5 separate regions of the Homo sapiens genome follow, and regions 1, 3, 4 and 5 are each reported to be linked to region 2. The links are microRNA targets in miRTarBase. Many come from high-throughput screens and were not tested one by one. Region 2 holds a microRNA gene; each other region holds the end of a gene's coding sequence.

Evidence for each region. Region 2 holds the annotated microRNA hsa-miR-6790-3p (CGACCUCGGCGACCCCUCACU, at 3,217-3,237, shown strand). A microRNA usually pairs through its seed, bases 2 to 8, with sites in the 3' UTR of a target mRNA and lowers its output. Matches are read on the target gene's strand: a 7mer-m8 pairs with bases 2 to 8, a 7mer-A1 pairs with bases 2 to 7 and ends in A, and an 8mer does both.
Region 1: the mRNA of HM13 is a reported target of hsa-miR-6790-3p. The part of its 3' UTR that is shown has no 7-base or 8-base seed match.
Region 3: the mRNA of GAN is a reported target of hsa-miR-6790-3p. The part of its 3' UTR that is shown has no 7-base or 8-base seed match.
Region 4: the mRNA of KICS2 is a reported target of hsa-miR-6790-3p. Seed matches in the 3' UTR shown: 7mer-A1 at 2,016-2,022.
Region 5: miRTarBase lists DCUN1D2 as a target of hsa-miR-6790-3p. Seed matches in the 3' UTR shown: 7mer-A1 at 1,468-1,474.

Annotation. Positions count from the first base shown.
Region 1 is chr20:31,568,532-31,572,531 of GRCh38, reverse strand. HM13 (histocompatibility minor 13) reads right to left here. Exons shown (of 13, transcript NM_178581.3): 13 at 2,989-3,412. The coding sequence ends at 3,313. All of the region lies in intron 2 of HM13-AS1 (HM13 antisense RNA 1), which reads left to right. Among named protein-coding and RNA genes, the nearest start is that of HM13-AS1, 2.7 kb to the left of the region's middle. RefSeq lists a silencer at 2,632-2,926.
Region 2 is chr19:6,391,700-6,396,161 of GRCh38, reverse strand. It overlaps MIR6790 (microRNA 6790), which reads left to right and starts at 3,179; the gene lies at 3,179-3,241. GTF2F1 (general transcription factor IIF subunit 1) reads left to right here and starts at 2,998. Exons shown (of 13, transcript NM_002096.3): 1 at 2,998-3,178; 2 at 3,259-3,305; 3 at 4,188-4,260. The coding sequence starts at 3,167. It also overlaps the pseudogene LOC390877.
Region 3 is chr16:81,377,119-81,381,118 of GRCh38, forward strand. GAN (gigaxonin) reads left to right here. Exons shown (of 11, transcript NM_022041.4): 10 at 101-210; 11 at 297-4,000. The coding sequence ends at 478. Among named protein-coding and RNA genes, the nearest start is that of MIR4720, 5.9 kb to the right of the region's middle.
Region 4 is chr12:64,190,337-64,194,336 of GRCh38, forward strand. KICS2 (KICSTOR subunit 2) reads right to left here. Exons shown (of 3, transcript NM_152440.5): 3 at 744-4,000. The coding sequence ends at 3,506. Among named protein-coding and RNA genes, the nearest start is that of KICS2, 30 kb to the right of the region's middle. RefSeq lists an enhancer at 3,794-4,000.
Region 5 is chr13:113,454,581-113,458,580 of GRCh38, reverse strand. It overlaps DCUN1D2 (defective in cullin neddylation 1 domain containing 2), which reads left to right. Exons shown (of 7, transcript NM_001014283.2): 7 at 473-2,762. The coding sequence ends at 552. Among named protein-coding and RNA genes, the nearest start is that of ADPRHL1, 3.1 kb to the right of the region's middle. RefSeq lists an enhancer at 1,633-2,563.

The DNA.
Region 1 (4,000 bases), not on the chromosome of region 2:
CCCTTCTCCAATGCTGCCCCCAAAAGGAACCAGGGATCCATTATCCTGATCATGTCAAACGGCACCACGGTGAATACGAGTCTTGGAAGCCAGACACTCTGGGTTCACATGCCCCCTGGGCCCGCCCTTACGGTCTCTGCCTCAGTTTCCCCATCGTAAGAATGATGTAGGTACCTCAAAGTGTTGTTACAACGATTAAGTAAATCTTAAGATACATTTGAAACTTGAACACGGGTTTCAATTGTGCAGGTGCACTTAAACGTGGACTTTTTTTCTACCTCTGCCACCCCTGAGACACCAAGACCAACCCCCTCCTCTTCCTCAACACAGAGACCAGGATGAAGATCTTTATTTATGATGATCCACTTTCACTGAATAATTTTTTTTTTTTTGAGACGGAGTCTCACTCTGTCCCCCAGGCTGGAGTGCGGTGGTGCAATCTTGGCTCACTGCAACCTCCGCCTCTTGGGTTCAAGTGATTCTCCCACCTCAGCCTCCTGAGTAGCTGGGACTACAGTCGCCTGCCACCATGCCAGGCTAATTTTTGTATTTTTAGTAGAGTCGGGGTTTCACCATATTGGCCAGGCTGGTCTCGAACTCCTGACTTTGTGATCCGCCTGCCTCTCTCGGCTTACTGCAAGCTCTGCCTCCCGGGTTCAGGCCATTCTCCTGCCTCAGCCTCCCGAGTAGCTGAGACTACAGGCGCCTGCCATCATGCCCGGCTAATTTTTTGTATTTTTAGTAGAAACGGGGGTTTCACCATGTTAGCCAGGATGGTCTCGATCTCCTGACCTCCTGATCTGCCCATCTTGGCCTCCCAAAATGCTGGGATTACAGGCATGAGCCACCATGCCTGGCTCTTAGGATTTTCTTAATTACATTTTCTCTAGCTTACTCTATGGTAGACAGTGTAGTACGTATAACATACAAGATGTTTTGACTGTTTATGTTATCAGGTAAGGCTTCTGGTCAACAGCAGACTATTAGTTGTTTTGCGGGACTGAAAAGTTATACAGATTTTCGACCATGATGGGTTGGTGCCCCTAATCCCTGTGTTGTTCAAGGGTCAGTTGCACTAGCATAATGCTAGTCACGTGAAATACAGTCAGTGCACACTGGGGTCTCAGCAGGGCTGGTTTTCCCCTTGGAACCCTCTCTCTTGTCGCAGTCATGGGAGACTGAGGCACAGAAACAGAATCTAATAAAGCAGGGTAGAACTTGGGTTCTAGAGCAGTTTCCTAATAATCCACCCCAAACCAGGTGAGGCTGGCATCTAGCCCACTCGGGGCCCTGCCCAACCACCCACACCCCCTCCCCAGCATGCAGGCCCAATCCTTGCCCGGCCTGGTGCCATTTTTCCATGGGACTCTGATGGTGGCGGTTCACATCTGGAGTCTAGACTCGCAGGCTCTGCGGGCCAGGCCTACCGCCTGGGCTGGGCCACCACTGCCCGCTGTTTGCTCAGCTGAAGCTGGTTAATTGGAATTACAGTGGCCTCTGCGGTGCCGGCTGGCCGGGCGGGCCCTAGTCCGCTGCTCCGGAGGTCTGTGGAACATCTGGCTGGACCAGGACAGTCATTAGGTGGCAGGCGCTCGGCGCCACTGCCACCTCAGCCTCTGCCGGGGGCTGGTGGTGACTCAATAAGGCCTTTGTGCGCCCTGGGCCGCAGAGCCAACCATGCTATGTGCCTGGGCCGCCTGCCCCATCTGCCTCAGAGGGGCCTTGTTCCAGGACCACATGGCCTCAGAGTTGGCTGGAGTGGGTAGAGATTCCAGAAGCCCCTGAAAGGGAACCCCCCTCCCTGAAAGGAAGAAGCCTTTTGAAATTTTCTACCCCTTTTCCTTCCTATAGAACCCTGGAGCCAGTAAAATTGGGTGGCTGGGGCTCAGGGATGCCCAGCACACCAGCCAGTGACTTGGTCCCAGGGGTCTGGGGAGGAGCTGCGGTCCTTAGGAACCTGGAATTGTTTGGCTTGGCTAAGGTCAAATCGATGTCCATGGGCAAGCTGCCTCAATTCCCTCATCTGCACAGCGGAGCGAATAATAGCACATACAGCCCAAGACTCAGAAGGAAGTGAAATCCTATATCAAGGTGCTTAGTGCATGTCAATACCTAGTGAGGGTATTACAGTCATACTCCTGAGTCTCTGGTCATGATTGTCCTTTGGCCACTTCCAAACTGGAAGCCACTGTTATTTTCAGCCTTTGAACCTGAAGCTTGGGCAAGGGAGAGCCCCGGGTCTGTCAGTATGGTGGCCACCCGCTCCTGTCTGTTTCCCCACTCAGTGACCTCATACCAGGTGGGTGGATGAGGGTTGTGGCCACCGTTTGCCTGGTTTGGGGTGGTGCCCGGTCGGTCTCCTGCTGGCCGGGGCTGCTGTCTTCAGCAAACTTTAGGGAAACCCGGGCGCTGAGATTTCAGCTCTTAGGCCCCAGAAGGCCTCTAAGAATCACTAGCTCAGTCCTTCCCCACCCCAGCCTCTAGAGGTCCTGGCCCTTGTGCCATGACTGGCCCCACAGTAGTCATTTTGGGAAGAAACCCAGGAATGGGCAGAATGGGAGACAAAGCCTTGATCTTCAGGGCAACCTAGAGTCTGAGCCCTCATCAGCCGAAGCCATATGGGCACAGGGACCAGGGAGGCTGGCAGGTTCTACAGTTACTGCTTCCCTTGTGAGTCAGGTCAGCCCTGGGTACTCCCCACCACTCTCACCATGGTGAGTGGGAGACTCTCATCTGCCAACACCCTTGCTGCCCCCAAGTATTTCGAGGAAGGTGGTGAGAAAAGTGCTAGCTGGTGAGAGAGGGCTCGTGGGCCCCCTCTACTGGCTAAAAGGTGTTTTACGGGTGCAGGGCTGGCCAGGCACTGGGGTGGGCACCCTTAAGGGGCTTGCAGAAAAGATTTTGGGTGGGCAGGTGAGACCTAGAAAACCCAGGGCAAGACACTGGGTGCTTAAACAGAGAATCTTCCAGGAGCACAGTGGCCCGCCCTGGCCATGGGATGAGTTTTTAATGTGAGGCAAAATCAGTCCACAATACAAAATCTAAAAATCACACCCACTTTTCCCACCTGGCTCCCGGGGAGGGGGGAAGCTGGGGGTTTCTTTTGCCTGCAGGGTGTGGGGAGGAGCAGAGGAGGGCCAAGAAAGGGAGAAGGAAACAGAGGCCACAGAGGCCTGGCTGGAGGTATCCTGCTGCCCCCTGCCCTGTCCTGGAGCTGCCCTTGGCCTCCTGTGCCCTCTACCGGTGCACGCCTGTGTGGGCCCAGCCCCCATCTGTCTGGTCTGGCCCTGAGAGGCTCGGGCACCAGCTGCATCATTTCTCTTTCTTCTCCAGCCCCTTCGATGCTGATGCCTCTGTTCCCTCTTTGGATTCTGTCACTGCCGCTGGATCCTTAGGATTTGACTCCTCATAACTGACCAAAAAAAAAAAAACAACAATAAAAATTCATTTAGAGGAGAGGGTGAGCAGAACCTTGGTTGTCCCCTTCCCCCACCCCCATCCTAGGAAAGCGCCTGGTCACATGCAGAGCGTCAGCCCTGTGTCCACTGCCCAGCACCTAACAGCGCCTGGCCCCAGCCCTACCACATGCCCTCCTCAGGCAGGCTGCTCTGCTTTCTCTGAGCCTGGGGGTACCAGGAGGCAGCAAGGGCAGCAGCCAATGGAAGAGAGGTTGGGCCTGGGCTTGTGTGGGCTGATTTCAAGCTTCCTGAACCTTCTGCTGTAGCGTGGAAAAAGGGGTGGCCATGACAAGGCTACAAGAGATGGAGATAGGCTGCCTCCCAGGGCACACAGCATGAATCAAACAGCTCAGCCCCAGAGGTGAGGGCACTGCTGTACTGGCAAGCGGCAAGGTGCTGCTCTGAAGACAGACACCCTGGCTTAGCTTCTTCTATGGGCTTCATTTTTCAAGCAACTGAGTTCATGCCAAAGATAATACAAATCTTTCCTCACCAGATAAACCCCGTGAGGCAGGAATGTGCCCACTTACAGATGAAGAAAG
Region 2 (4,462 bases):
TCTCGGCTCACTGCAAGCTCCGCCTCCCGGGTTCATGCCATTCTCCTGCCTCAGCCTCCTGAGTAGCTGGGACTACAGGCACCCGCCACCGCGCCCGGCTAATTTTCTTTGTGTTTTTAGCAGAGACGGGGTTTCACCATGTTAGCCAGGATGGTCTCGATCTCCTGACCTCATGATCTGCCCGCCTCGGCCTCCCAAAGTGCTGGGATTACAGGCGTGAGCCACCGCGCCCGGCCTCTTAGGGGTATGGTTCTGTTCTCAAGGGCATAGCCAGGCACGTTGTGTGTTTGTGCCGCTTTGGATGAAGATGTGAACTTGAGGCCAGGTGTGGTGGCTCACGCCTATAATCCCTGCACTTTGGGAGGCCGAGGCGGGTGGATCCCTTGATGTCAGGAGTTTGAGACCAGCCTGGCCAACAGGGTGAAACCCCATCACTACTAAAAATACAAAAAAAATTAGCTGGGTGTGGTGGTGCACACCTATTCGTGAGGCTGAAGCAGGAGAATCGCTTGAACCCAGGAGCCAAAGGTTGCAGTGAGCCGAGATTGTGCCACTGCACTCCAGACTGGGCAACAAAGCAAGACTCCATTTAAAAAAAAAAATGATGTGGCCAGGTGCGGTGGGCTCATGCCTAGCACTGTAATCCTAGCACTTTGGGAGGCCGAGGTGGGCAGATCACTTCAGGTCAGGAGATCGAGACCATCTTGGGTAACACGGTGAAAACCTGTCTCTATTAAAAATACAAAAAATTAGCTGGGCGTGGTGATGGGCACCTGTAGGCCTAGCTACTTGGGAGGCTGAGGAAGGAGAATGGCGTGAACCCGGGAGGCAGAGCTTGCAGTGAGCCGAGATCGTGCCACTGCACTCTAGCCTGGGCGACAGAGCGAGACTCCGTCTCAAAAAAATAAAATAAAAAAAAACAAAGACGTGAACTTGAGCAGGCCAGGCCCTTCACACACGGCATCTCCTTAAAGCATCCTGAGGACTCTATCATCCCATTTTACAGTGGAGGGAACCGAGGTTCAGTGAGAGGCAGGGACTTGCCCACGCTCCCAGTCTCATCCCATACTCCCCTTCTCTCTGTTCCAGCCCCATATCCTACTCCCCTTCCCTCTGTCCCAGCCCCAACCCATACTCCCCTTCTCTTTGTCCCAGCCCCAGGGGGCTTCAGTTCTTTGAATTTGAAACTCACTTCTCCCTTGCTGTTTCCTCTGCTTGGAAAATCCCTGCCTGCCCCAGTTCCTTCTGGCCACAACTTCCATCTGGCCTTCTCTAGCCTCCATCTAGAGCTTCCCCCCATCACTCCTTGTCTGAGACACCTATTTCCTCCACAGCAATGGCCACAGTCTGTCATGATCTTCTCTGTTTACTCGTTCTTTTTTTTTCCTTCTTTTCCTTCTTTTTTTTTTTTTTTTTTTTTTGAGACGGAGTTTCGCTCTTGTTGCCCAGACTGGAGGGCAATGGCGCGATCTCGGCTCACCACAACCTCTGCCTCCCAGGTTCAAGCGATTCTCCTGTCTCAGCCTCCCGAGTAGCTGGGATTACAGGCATGTGCTACCACGCCCGGCTAATCTTGTATTTTTAGTAGAGACGGGGTTTCTCCACGTTGGTCAGGCTGGTCTCGAACTCTCAACCTCAGGTGATCCGCCCGCCTCGGCCTCCCAAAGTGCTGGGATTACAGGCATGAGCCACCGTGCCCAGCCGTTTACTCGTTCTTGTCTCCCCCAAGCCAGACACTCCATGAGGGCAAGGACTATTTCTGCCTCCCTCATTCCTATATTCCTAGGGGTTGGCGGTTCCTGACATTTAGTGGTGGATGAGAAATAAATGAAAACAGACACATCGACGGTGTCTGTAGTTCATGGCCCAACTTTTGTGTCTTGCCCGCCTTCCCTTTGCTTAGCCAACTCCTATGCATCCCTCAGTGCCCAACTGAAACCTCCCCTCTTCTCTGAGCCCTCAGAGCCCCGCTGTGCTTCTCCTGCTCCTTCCTGGGTTGTAGATTCCCATGCTGTGACTCTGTCTCTTCCACGACACTGTAACCCTCGAGAGGACACTGTAATCCTCCGTGGGGAGCTGGTTTGACAGATTCACCTTGCGGGGCCCCGAACCCAGGAGGTGCTGGAGTATTTGCGAAGTGGAGCAATGAATGGTTGCGCCGTGAGCATGCGCAGTTGTGTTACTGCCATGATTCGGGGGATGTGTGCATGCCTGGAACGGGGTAGGGGATCCTGCATCTCCCTCCTGTTCTCGGCAGCTTCCTTCCCTTCCCCCCAGGAAGCCAGCCAGCCGCCCCCGCGACGTTACCCTTCTCCTGGGGCCTCAGAGCCCTGCCCATCTCGGGCAGCTTGGACTTGCAAAGACCCATCCGGCCAGCAGCTCTTGGGGTGGTCGCGCCCCGACCCCGCCCAGGCTCTGACCCCTCCTGGCTCGGCTCAACGTCACAAGGGTCCCCGCCCCGGTCATTTTGCGGGAATGACGGGGTCCACCCCTTCGGGGTAGGGGGAGGAAATGAACCCCAAACAGACCCATGGGGAGCCAAGCGGCGGTTCGACCCGACCCGAGTAGGCCTCGGTTGCTATGGTGACGCGGCCTTCTGGGCCCCCCAGGTCCAGAGCGGCAAGGCGCATGCGCAAAGTGCCTGGGAGCCCGCAAGGGGGATTCGTCTCCCTCTTCCCACCCAGGATGCCCCACGGTCCTTGGGTGCTGACGTCACGAGAGAGGGCGGTCCCCCATTTGATGAAGTTAACCGCGTTATATACAAGAGCGCCAGCGACAGAGGCCCGTTAGTTTATCTCAGACTCGGCCTAGGTTTGCTGAGTCTAAAAAGGGACCGCGGTGGACCTTTTGAGGTGACCATAGCCGCCGAGGAGCATAAGTGACTGCGCACTGAGGTGGCCACAGTCGCTAAGAAGGTTGCCATCGCGACGCGGCTGCTCGAGGGTTTCGCTTCCGGGTTAGGCGGCCGCAGAAGCGTAGACCGAGTAGCTTGAGCGCCTCTTCCGGTTACCTTTTCCCAGCGCCAGAGGCGCCTAGGGTTGGGGTCCTCGCTCAGGCACAGAGACCCGACACCGAGCGGCGGCTTCCCCGGGATCGAGGGACGCGCACGCCAGAGGAGACGAAAGGAACCCGGGTCGGACCAGATCGGAACCACTGACCATTGCCCATGGCGGCCCTAGTGAGTGTGGATTTGGCGGGGTTCGGGGGTTCCGACGGCGACCTCGGCGACCCCTCACTCACCGCTTCCTCTTTCCGCAGGGCCCTAGCAGCCAGAATGTCACTGAATACGTCGTTCGAGTTCCTAAGTAAGTCCCCAGCCCCATCTCCCACTCCTCTCCACCCCCCAAAAATGAAAACCTTCACGATCTTCTTAGCCAGCCATTTCTGGCCCTGTCTGTGGTTCTCCCTCCAGACCGGGAGAGACTTGGAGGGCAGGGCTGGGATTAAGCTGAGGCTTCTCTGGGGACAACACTGCTTTTTTGAACGAATGAATGAATGAGTGCATTAATACACGGTGATCCAGCCCCCTGGCCTAACCTTCGAGGAGTATATGGTCCCATGATGCCCAGGCCAGCTGTAAGGACATATTCCTCGTCCTGTTTCAAAGTGGTCAGGCTGTCTTTCCTTTCCAGGCCTTTGTACATCCTGTTCCTCTGCCATGAGTGCCTCCCCTCAACCCCTAAACTGTGACTCTGCTGGGTGAATTCTTGATGATTCTGCAAAACTCAACTCCAGTATCTTCCTCCTCCAGGAAATACTCCCTGCCTGTCCTCCCTCCTCCCCAAGGCTGAGTTCACAATAATCTCCACATCTTGGGTTCCCCCAAATCTTCGTCCCTCCATCTGCTCTTCTTCTGCCTGGGGTCAGGAGAGGATGGGTCTAGCTTCTCTGGCAGACTGGGAATCCTTGGAGTCTTCCGTATCCAGTGTTGCCAGGCAAAACAGGCTGAATGAAGCTGGGTGGGTTTGTTGAGTGAATTGAATTGAATTAATGATTCAATTGAATGGAATGATTGAATTGAATTAATGGTTCAATTGAATTGAGTGATTGAATTAAAGTAATGATTTGATTGAATTAACGATCCAGTTGGGTGGTTGATTGAATTAATGGTTCAATAGCATTGACTGATTAAATTAATGATTGAATTGCTGTATTGGATTGACACTACCTCTTCTCATCCACTCCAGGAATACAACCAAAAAATATAACATCATGGCTTTTAATGCAGCCGACAAAGTCAACTTTGCTACGTGGAATCAGGTAAGTCTCTGAGTCCTGGGGGTCAGGGGCTGGGGTGGTGAGAGAACTTGACCCTGACCTTGGTGGTTGTGATAGTTGCTTAACTGTCATAGTCACTAAGTCTTAATTTTCTCACTTTTCTCCAAGTGAAGAAAAGATAGATGACAAAGGGTTGGGTGCAGTAGTTCACACCTGTAATCCCAGCACTTTGGGAGGCTGAGGC
Region 3 (4,000 bases), not on the chromosome of region 2:
GATACTGCTGATGACTCACCAAGCTTGCTGTGTCAGTCTTCCTAGATGTTGTTGTCATCCTTTTGATTTCCTTAATTTTGTGCATGGGCTTTGTTTTCAGGTGGATCTATCTTAACGACCAGAATTTATGCATCCCCGCCAGTTCCTCTTTTGTTTATGGAGCTGTACCTATAGGAGCCAGTATTTATGTTATTGGAGATCTTGATACAGGTAAGAGTGTTACAGTGATTTTCTTGGAACTGTTTCCTGGTGATTCTGGGTACATTTTCTCACCCTTGCTTATTTCTGTGGCTTAGGTACCAATTACGACTACGTGCGTGAGTTTAAAAGAAGCACAGGAACCTGGCACCACACTAAACCACTCCTTCCATCCGACCTTCGCCGTACAGGATGTGCAGCCTTACGCATTGCGAATTGCAAGCTTTTCCGCCTGCAGCTTCAGCAAGGCTTATTCCGTATTCGTGTTCATTCCCCTTGAGGAGGAAGCAGAGCAGAGTGCGAGATCCTGACCCAAGAGCACCATAACATAGCTCCGAAAGGGAGAGCAGAGATGGCAGCTGAAACTCACTCTGTGCTGGGCTTTGGTATGGTAACTCTTTGGTGGTTTTATGATGCTTACAAACTTGAGCTTTAGCTCTTGTTTGGGAGAACACGTAACTGTTGAAAAACTACCTGGGAGGAGTGAGTTCCTCCAGTTAAATGTGGCTGTAGATGTTGGAGGCTAGGGAGGCTAGTAAATATCAAAAGGAAAAGGGAGTGGGAATTGCTATCATGTAAAATATCAAAGTTAAAATACTAAGGTGCATTTTCCCTGAAGGGAACTCATGTCTGACTGCTGTATTCAAATACGTAGCTTTGGTAACAAACAAAATCCGTATATGCAAATCAACATATCCAAACATGCCAAGACTGCTTTTCCACTGCACTTGGAAGGATATATTATGCCTAACCCTGCCCAACAAATTAAGGTTTGTGCCTAAAATGTTAGATTGGACTGTATGCCAGTTAGTCTCCATTTATTCCTAGTACTCTGTCCTAAGAATCTTTTTAAAACTATATCATGATGAATTGAAATGAAGATAAAATTGCTCTTTTGTAACTTTATCTTAGTAATGTAAAGATTCAGTAAATTGATGAGTCAGGTTGCAGCCCTCATGTGAACTGAAAGAAGTTGCTCGCTTCTGTGTTGACTTAGATCAAGACACGTCACGCATCCTTTCTGGGGTAGTACCTGTGGAGCCGGGAAGGGTCTCCTGCAGTGCCATTCTGCCTTCTCAATGAGCAAAACCATTTTCTAAGTATGAGGATATTAGTGAGTAGGAGATTTTATAAAAGAAAGACCTGAGTCAGACAAATAATAAAGGTCTGCTGTGGCTAAAAAAGCAAAAACAAAAAAGCTATCCAGACAAAATACATAGGGATCAGAAACTTTTTCATATAACCTGTCTGAAAGCACACAAAGTCTTGTTTACTACTGTTTAGGGTTTGAAAACTTGTCTTAGAATGCGAATCTGTGTTAAGAATCTAGTCTTTGTAATAGAAGTTTCCCAGTGGCATTCACTAGTGAGAGTTTTAGACAAATTATGTTACGAGTAAAGTTTGGCTGGTAGAATAAACTACCTCAACTTAATTTCATTCTGTTCATAGTAGAGCAAATTAATCTTTTCCTCCTTCCCTCCTTTCCTATCTCTCATTCTCACCTCAACCCACTTTACCCCACTTCTCATTGGGGGAAAAATGTCTTTCGTTCGTGGAACGTATCTTGTAAGATATTTTGTTTTCCACTTGAATTACACCACCCTAGTGTGAAATCGGGGACTTCAAAGTGCTTGATTCCTTCCTAAATTGAATTTTATGCAATGTCAAATTTCTAATCAATTTAATATACAGTACTTCATTTTTAATTGTTTTCTAAAAAAAAGGTTTTTTTTTTCCTTTTGGAATATGGCTGTAAGAAGCAGCATTTTGTCTTATTAACACATGTATAAAGGTATCCTTTGGTTTTAAGTCGAGAACAGGAATTTCTTCTAGAAACTTCCTGTATGGAACGTTTATATGCAATTAACATGCATATGAAAAACATCACTTACGTTCTCCCACCCATAGACATAAAAAAGGGTGACCTGTGATTTTTTTTCTTATACCTGCTGGAAGTCAGTACAATGCGTCAAAAGTTGCTGAAAGATGCTGTGCCTATGGGGTTCTAGAGAGTGTTGAGTGTGGTACATTAACTCTCCATTTTAGCCAGAAGATACCTGATAAGAGAAGGTGTAAGGTTTTTATCTTATATGCCAGAGGCACCAGGCCAGATGTGCCGCACAGTCATGTAATTCAATCATGTTTAATATGTCAGTCAAAACCAAATTCAGAATTGTTTTGTGTACCAGTCAGCTGTTGTCTGCACATTTTCGTAGTGACAGTGTGGAGATCTTTTTAATGAAAGCAAACTATGTGGCCTCTGCAAAGAAAGGAAGATTTTTCTTTTTACAACTAGATATTAGTTTTAGAGGAAGGAAATAGCTGAAAAACTAAATTTGCTTTGGTGAAATGTCCTGTACAGAACAGTACCTTGGCATTCAGCAGCTGTAATTGGGGAACATTAAAACAGTAACTGACATCCAGTTAAAGCCACGATCGTCAGCAATTCTCCTTTTTTAATTTCTGATATTTAAAGTTTTTTTTCCAGTCTACACCAGGCCTCTCCAAGGAGACAGTTCATTATTTAGGAGTGAATGTGTTCCTCTTGCAATATTATCAGTACCTGCATGACTTGGTAAATTCATTTTATAAAAATAGTGTTTTTTTTTTTTAATTTCAGTTCATTGACTCTATAACTGCAGAAATTAGATAATGTTTTATAAAATAAATTTGCCACATAATATGGGATGCAATAACCAACAAAGCTGCTAAGTGCCAAACTGTTATTTTACTATATATAAATATTAAAATATTGTGTTGAAGTATAGGGATGTATTTAATTTTACTATGCTCCAACATTAATCATGACTCTTTTGTAAATTACAGTTATTTCAGTATTGTAAAATAAATGTTGACTCATTTCATGCAGGTTTGTGTTTTAACATTCCACTTATGCCTTGAAACATCATTTCTTGATAACTTTTTGATACTTCTTTCTTGATAAGGCACTTTTACCAGGTGTGTGTTGGAATTGGTGGCTCAGGATAGGTCTTAAATTTTAAATACAAATATCTTTGGGGGAAGTGCAATTTATTTTCAGAAGGAAAGTTGTCTCAGGTTAGAATAAGTAAATATTTAAAGAACCTCTCCTAGGCTGCAGTCTAAAATAGGTAGTTTGTTTCTTTGTTTAGCATATCCAAATTTAGATTTTTCAAAGATTTAAGTGTTTATTGAAAGTGTTTTTTGTTTTGTTTTTGATAGTGCTTATATCCTGTGAATAGAAAAAGTGTGAGAGATGAATGAGTGAGTTGTACGTGTGTGTGTGATGCTATTTGACCTGATAAATGTATTTGTGTTTACTTTTTGAATTGTAGTTCTAAACTACATATATTACTGTCTCCTGGTGCTTCAGATAAATTCTTGAGCCTGTTGACCTTCAGTTTATACTACTGTGTCGAACTCATATTGAGTGTAAATATTGAAATATTTGTAGTTTATAGTAAGTTTTACTTGGTGTTCGCGTTTCTCTTCTTCAGCAGGATTAAAAACAGTGTTTACCAACTCGTAGTTGGTATACTGTCAGGATTTGGCCTAAGAAATTTCTGAATGCATTGTTTAGCTTAGTACTTCATTGCTGTAAGGAATTGATAGCTAACTGTAGGCTTTTTTCAAACTGTATAACAACCAAAAAGGAGCATTTGGGGGTATGTTGGATGGTGTTTTGTTTGTAAACACTTTGTTATATTGCACTACCACTTTAATGATGACACTTCCTTCATTGATGGCTTGGAAGTGTCATTTTTATAATTTATGAGTTGGGGGGATTCCCTAGTCAATGCATAGGAAATACATTCTTTGTACA
Region 4 (4,000 bases), not on the chromosome of region 2:
CAGACAAGGAAGTTGAGCTCAGAGGCTGATTTGCCAAACAAACAAAATTGTGAGTCTGCTTCTAGATCAAAAGGGTGGACATTCACCTGAAGGAATTCCCTGGGAAAGTAGTGAAGTACCAATTATTTTCTTTCTAGAAAGTACATTTTCTGCTGGACACAGTGGCTCACACCTGTATTCCCACTTGGGAAGCTAAAGAGGGAGGATCACTTGAGCCCAGGATTTCGAGACCAGCCTGAGCAACATAGTGCGACCCTATCTCTAAAATATTTTTTTAAAATTAGCCAGGCATGGTCCTAGCTACTCGGGAGGCTGAGGCAAGAGGACTGTTGAGCCTAGGAGTTCAAAGCTGCAGAGAGCTATGATCATGCCACTGTACTCCAGCCTGGGCGACAGACCTTGCCTTTTCAAAAAAAAAAAGAAAGAAAGAAAGAAAAGAAAAGTATTTGGACACATTTCTCCCAATATGTCCAAATATCCAAAGCAATTATATCAAGGGTATTGGCTCCTTGGTTAAGAACTGGGCTTTATTTTCACACACTCCCTGAAATGACACAGCCAGAGATCAGGTAGGACCCAGAGAGAACAAAGTTACAAACCCTGTGTCCAAACAGCATCCTAAAATGAAATACTCCTGGATGGAACCCTTGGAAAACTCAGTGTTGACCATATTCCCAGTTACCCATAAAAACTTATCAAGTTGTGGTTTAGAAACAGATTCAAAGAAAGCAGTCTGCAGAAAATACGCAGATTTACTCTTTTAATTAGCAAAACACAGACTTTACAGATCTCATTACTATATTTAGAGAATAAATCTTAGAGTAAAATGACTTTGTTTCTTGGCTTGAACCAAATTATGTGGAGTTTTTATAATTAGAAAACTTTATTGAAGAGCTTCAGAAATAATTTAAGTATCAATATTCAATCTTCAAAAACTCTTCCAGTACAGTCTATGACAGCTGCACAGTAATACATATTGTCTTAGATTTTCTTAATATTCACATCTGCCTTCTGTTCTTTGAAATTCTTTTTGTGTTTATGTTTAAAAATAGATATACAATTCAAATATGTTCTAGGTGAGGACTGGTTATTTAAATAACATATATATGCTTTACTTACACCTCTCTCGGGGTTCCACTGAAGTATATATTCTTCTAGGTATTTGGGGGACTGTGTCATTAAGGCTAATGGTGGTTTAATCTAAGAGGAAAAAAATACATGCATACCAAGGAATATTTTTCAGTTTCTTGGCAGAACACAATAGAGAGGAAAAGTGATTTGACTTTTTAGCTCCAATTGCTTTCAATTTCTTAGGTAAGGTCAATGTTGTAAAATCTGCTGAGACTTTTTTTATAGAACCTGAGTGAATAAAATGCAGAGGTAAATCACTACTTTCTATTTAAAGCAAACTAGCTTTTTACAAAGCTTATGACCATTTTTAAAGAAAAAGAAAGGAGGCCAGGTGCAGTGGCACATGCTTATAAACCCAGTGCTTTGGGAGGCCGAGGCGGGAGGCTCATGTGAGTCCAGGAGTTTGAGTCCAGCCCGAGCAACATAGTGAGACCCAGGTGTGATGGCTCATGCCTGTAATCCCACCTACTCGGGATGCTGATGTGGGAGGATCACTTGAGCCCAGGAGGTTGAGGCTGCAGTGAGTTGTGATTGTGCCACTGTACTCCAGCCTGGAAAACAGACAAGACCCTGTCTCAAAAAAAAAAAAAAAAAAAAAGGAAAAACACATGTTCTTCCCAGAAAATAAAAAATAGGCCAGTAGATTCTTGGTTCTTCTTCTTCTTTTTTTTTTTTTGAGACAGGTCTCGCTCTTTCACCCAGGCTGGAGTGCAGCTGCACAGTCTCAGCTCACTGCATCCTCCACCTCCCAGGTTCAAGCAATTCTCCTGCCTCAGCCTCCAGAGTAACTGGGATTACAGTCACCCGTCACTACAACCGGCCAACTTTTGTATTTTTAGTAGAGATGGGGTTTCACCATGTTGGCCACGCTGATCTCGAACTCCTGACCTCAAGTGATCCACGCGTCTCAGCCTCCCAAAGTACTGGGATTACAGGCGTGTGCCACCGTGCCTGGCCGGTTCTTCTTTCTTCTGCCAGGCAGTCCACCCTAGGTGGGCAGGCTTCCTACATGGACTCTGAGGGGCTCTCTGGTCTCTGCTGATGTTGCTGGCATACCTGCTGTGGACACCCAGTAAAACAGTGGCTCCACACAATCATGGGAAAAAAGACGAATATGACCATTACATTTCACACAAGCTTCAAAGGAACCATCAAACCAGTAACAACTCAATTACTCTTTGTGGCTTCTTTTTATTTTGAATCAATAATCTAGAAGTGAAGGTCTCCACAGCCCATTATGCCTTCACTGATCCACCTACTTCCCATGAACACCTGCCGAAGGAAAGAAATAAGGCAGCATGTGCTAAGATGCAGTGCTGCTTCTAAACATAATTTGTGGGGGGCAGGCATGAAACCCAAGTTCAGAAGTGCTTAAGTACTGAGGTGATTACTCAACTATGAAGAGGTCTTTCAAGCGCACAGTTGATTTTTAGCAAGTACAGCGTATGAAGACCTTCATTTTGATTTTATAAAAGTAGGCTATGTTGCATGAGTATCTAAAAGTGGCTGAAAAACCGACTGCATGCTTTTAAGCCTAAAAATAACCAAGGAGTAGAGCCAAACATGTACATTTCAGCAGAAAAGTGATAAACAGAAAGCGAAGCGGATAATATGCTGAAGAATGAAGAAAGCCCACATGATGGCTTATGCTGACTTTACAACAGAGTGAAACATTCAAACATTAAAGAAGTCAAAACAAATGCAGTTAGGTGTGTACATTACCCCAAAAGAACCCATGGCTATTAAAGCTGCCATGAGGATCTTCTGAACTGTTAAAACCTTACGTCATGCTACCAATCTGACTCACTTTCAGTTTCAATAACTGATAGAAATTTCTTACCAAGACCCTAATTTTGGCATCAAAAATGTTAATTTGTAGATCAGAATCATAAATCTACTAACTCCATATTCATTTGCTAATTTATGAGACAGAAAACATATAGTTCTTAATTCTAAAAAGGCCATTTAATATCTCATCCCTATTACTCTTCCAAGAAGGAGGGAAACAGAGAGGCTGTTTGGAATTGCAGTAGAACACAATGTTTAGAACAACAGAAAAACATATGGGAAAAAAAAAAGCCCAATAAATATTCAATCTACAAGAAATATAGCAAAATAGGGGAAAATACTGAAACTACTTTGCTGTACCATGGAGACACATGGTAGCCCATGACCACTTCCTAGATTACTCTTTGGAAACTTAATTCAATTGGCCTTAATTGCTTATAAAGTGTGCAACACAGGGAGGATTTGTCTTTAATTTAGTTCTGAAAGAGGCATGAATGGATGTAAACTCTATTCACAGACCACCGTAGATCATTAGGGCAATTAAGAACAGTTTCTAGTCTTGAAACCCCTCCACGCAAATCACCTGCTAACCTTTGGCTCCAGGTTTCAGACTTGCAAACACTTTGGGGTTCTTAAGGGCAAGTGAGACCTCATTGAGGAAGGAAATAAAGTGGGAGTCTCTCTCAGATTTCTTTGACTCAAAAATGATGACAATGGTAAAGTGAGGTTCCGGGCGGGTTAGGAAGTAGGTACTCTGAACTTTGTCATCATAGAAGTGGACCACTTTCTCCAAGCTGTTCAGATCAGATGTGCGGTCCGTCATGATCATGATGACATTGGGCCAGTGCATGACTGGCCTGTCGCTGGGCAGAGACACTACAGCTGGATACTGGTCCACACCCTTGGGGGCCTCTCTGTAGGAATGGGGGTGGTGATAACCATGACCCTGAAAACTCTCAGAACCTCTGTTGTCAAAAATTAAGGACACATTGGCAGCATCATATTTTCTGATGAAGCTGGAAATCTTTCCAAAAAAGTCTGGGTTAGCTTTTGCTGTCAACGTTTTCATTTCTGAAGCAGT
Region 5 (4,000 bases), not on the chromosome of region 2:
GCTTCCAGGATTGAGGCAGCAGTGCAGGAGCTCAGAGGGCACTCAGGGCTGCCGGGGTGGGGAAGGGAGCAATGGGGTGGTCCCACTTGGGAAGAGCCGCAGGAGGGAGCACCCCCTGCTGGCAAGAATACCAATGACCTGAGGAACATGCCTCCTGCTCCGCGGGGGTCCATTTAGCTCCCTTCCTGAGCAGCTGGTGTGACTGCCTGGGGCACTCACCGAGCATCCGGGGCCACTGTGAGCCCACAGCCCCCTAGACATGCCAGCACACACACACCAGGGCTCCCGACCTGGCCGTGCTAGGGCGAAAGAACTGGGTAACTTGGGCTGGTTCATTCTGTGAAACACAAATGGTGTGGACCTCAAGTCATTTGGGTTCTTGAAGTGTAAATGTTGGATTGATGTGTGACTCAGTGCTTTGGAGATAAAAACGGTGCTCTAACGGGTTTTCTGTTTGCTTGCTTTCCTTTAGGAGCTTGGCCCGTTCTTATAGATGATTTTGTAGAATATGCACGGCCAGTAGTCACAGGTGGAAAACGCAGCCTTTTCTAGGCAGCAAGTTAAGCAGGAGTAAGATTATGAAATGATTTGTATCCTGCAAGGAGATTGCAGTCAGTTCCTGGGTGCATTGTCGCTGATTCCAGAAGTCATTCTTGACCAGCCATGAAACCAGAGGCGCCATCCCATTCTGCCGGAGGACAGCCAGCGGCTGCTTTGTGGACACCGCAGGAAGTTCCTCGGGACACGGCTGCTTTGGGATGTTTGGAGATTTGTCATCATAGCTTTTGCGTTAGGAAATTTCTGCATGATTTTTTAATATTTACAAAATACTAAGGTAGAGCCATAGCGCCGCCTGTGGGACCGCAGAGCATGCTGCGTAGCTCGCGCGTCAGGCGAACCAGCGTCCGGCAGCGTCCCGCCGAATGACGTTGCGGTGGCACTGGCAACACGGCATGTGTCCTCTGCAGGGCGCTGCGTTTTTATACACGTCAAAGCTGTTAAGAATGTGCCCTAAGGGAGAGGATCTTGTCGTAGAGTCTAATGTTTTTTAAAATTGGTGCCAGCAATTCACGATTTATATTTTTTGAATTACCAAATATCTAGATTTACCAGCTCTATTTTTGTTTTCATTTTCTCTAGACATTCATCTGAAAATCATTTTATGGTTCTCAATCCCCATGTAGCTTTGCATAGCAACGGCACACGTGGCACGATTCCAGCAGAGTTTATCTCACACCGTTTATATATCACTGGGCCTCTCTTACTTAAATATTATTTGACCTGCCTGAGAAGCTTCATAAAGTATGTTTTTTTAAAATATATTTTAATTACATTTAAAAAGACATTTTTCCATGAAAAACATTTATTTTATGAGTGATGAATTATAGATTTTAAAATCAAGGCCGGGCGTGGTGGCTCACACCTGTAATCCCAGCATTTTGGGAGGCCGAGGCAGGTGGATCACCTGAGGTCAGGAGTTTGAGACCAGCCTGGCCAACATGGTGAAACCCTGTCTCTACTAAAAATACAAAAATTAGCCGGGCATGGTGGCACATGCCTGTAATCCCAGCTACTCAGGAGGCTGAGGCAGGAGATTCGCTTGAACTCAGGAGACGGAGGTTACAGTGAGTCGAGATCGCGCCACTGCACTCCAGCCTGGACGACAGAGTGAGATTCTGTCTCAAAATAAATACATACATACATACAATAAAACCGAATGAGCTGGTTCTTTCCATCCTCTTGTGGTACCCGTAGTGCCCAGCATCCAGACCTTTGTGCCCCTGTGCACATTTGGAAGCTAAAATGTACATCGTTGTCTGAAAAAACCCAACCCCAAAACCTTCATCTGATTGGTGAGCTGAAGTCTGTCCTTGCACCATGTTATCATCTGTTTCTCGTGTCCGCCTGGTTGAGGAGGACCCACGAGTGCTGCCGAGGTGTGGAGGGCTGGTATTGAGTTGTGGACATCACTGTTGACCCTACCTCACGTGCCGAGACTCTCATGTCACAGGCGTGCCTTGCTGCCCCCCTGCAGCACTGTGCAGGACGTGGACCAGCTGGAGCTGCTGCCCAGCACAGAGGAGAGTCGCCGCAGATGACCTAGCTGCGGTGTGAGAGAGCATGGCCCAGACAAGCAGCTGGGTTGGCTTCTGAGAACAGGACTTACCCTGGGCTTCAGGAACATCTGATGGCTGAGGTTAGTGTGCTTGGAGGCTGCAGGACGAACTGTCGATGTTTCTTAGCAGAGATGGTCACAGAGGGCAGCAGGGACAGGACTGGAAGGGACCTGCAGCCTGCAGACCCCGCCTGGCCCCCGCTGGCTTCTGGCTGGTCCAGTGATGGGCAAGTGACAGACCTTCCCCAGGCTCTGCTTCCAGAACTCTAATGGGAAACTGGGCCTGTCTACCTTTAGAAGTCTTCGATTCTCAGAGAGCATTTGTCTAATACAATAAAAACTGGCATTAATACAAACCTCAAAAACGTGAGCGTATCTTCCAGGCTTCATGGATTCTTGACATGTAATTGTTTTGTTCAGAAAAGTTTATAGAATTCACATAATTCTGTATAAACTATGGAGATCCACAGTACTTTTTTGTTTTTGAGATTTAAAGTTCTAAGGGATTGTCAATAGATATCAAAATATTAATCATTGGACAAAGGCTTTTCCAAAAATTGTGGGTTTTTTTCTTCTGTTGTATCCATTTGAGTCCTGCATGCTGTGAAATGCTGAGAACAGAAGCATTAAATTGGTTTTTCTCGGGCGTGGTTTCCTTTCGATTCTCCTCAGCTGCAGGGATGTCTGCCTATAGGTGTCAGCATCCACGTCATTGTCCCAGGATGAGAGAACAGCCCCCAGCTAGCAACCAGCGGGCAAGCCCCTGCCCCCGTGTGTGGCCCGCCAGCCCTGGCCAGGTAACCAGGTCCTCAGGTACCTTCTGTCATTGCGTTGCCTCTCAGCGGTGCACCGTGCACCTGATGGGGTGGCTCATGTGAGGAATGAGAGATCTCACAATAGGCAGGATTTACGGGAGTGTGTCGGGGCAGGAGGTCATGTGTGCCAGCACAAACTGCTGGAAACCGTCCCTTATCGGAGGCAAACGGCCAAGCACGGGGGTCTGAGGATCATGTGCTACCTGCCGATTCACGGTGCACCTGCCAGCGTTCCGGAATCAACAACGCCAGCTCCTCTCAGTGACATTGTACATGTCATTGTGTTATTTTCGCTTGAAGTTTATATCCATTTTAGACCTCAGGCTTCTTGGGGCCAAGAATAAACTTTCTTCTGATCCTTGTTGCTGTGTCCACAGTTTCAGGTACAAAGTAGGGGCTCTGCAAATATTTGTTGGATAAACGAGCTAACCTTATCCCGTCCTGTTTGCTGAGGGAGCCAGCTAGTGCTCTTGGCAAAGGTTTCCGCCGCCTGCGAACTGAAGCGCTCAGCGAGCGGGCTGTGTTAATCCCCTCAGCAGCACACGCTTCGGCCCCACAGTGCAGTTGTGCCTAAAACAGGTGAGAGTTTGAACGAAGGGCCGCCCCTCCTGTCTGTCTTGTTTGGATAGGGACCCTGCGTGCATGCTGTTTTTTGTTTTGGAGTTTTGTTTGTTTGTTTGTTTGTTTCTGAGACAGAGTTTTGCTCTTGTTGCCCAGGCTGGAGTGCAATGGCGTGATCTCGGCTCACTGCAACCTCTGCCTCCTAGGTTCAAGTGATCCTCCTATCTCAGCCTCCCAAGTAGCTGGGATTACAGGTGCCCACCACCATGCCCGGCTAATTTTTGTATTTTTAGTAGAGACGGGGTTTCATCATATTGGTCAGGCTGGCCTCAAAATCCTGAGCTCAGGGGATCCGCCCGCCTCGGCCTCCCAAAGTGCTGGGATTACAGCCATGAGCCACCGCGCCCGGCCTGCATGCTGGTTTTGAAGTTTGTTTCTGAATCTCAGGATCATGCTAGCTGGCATGACTGTGCTGATGGCTGCCTCCACCAGCAGACAGTGGAGGGTG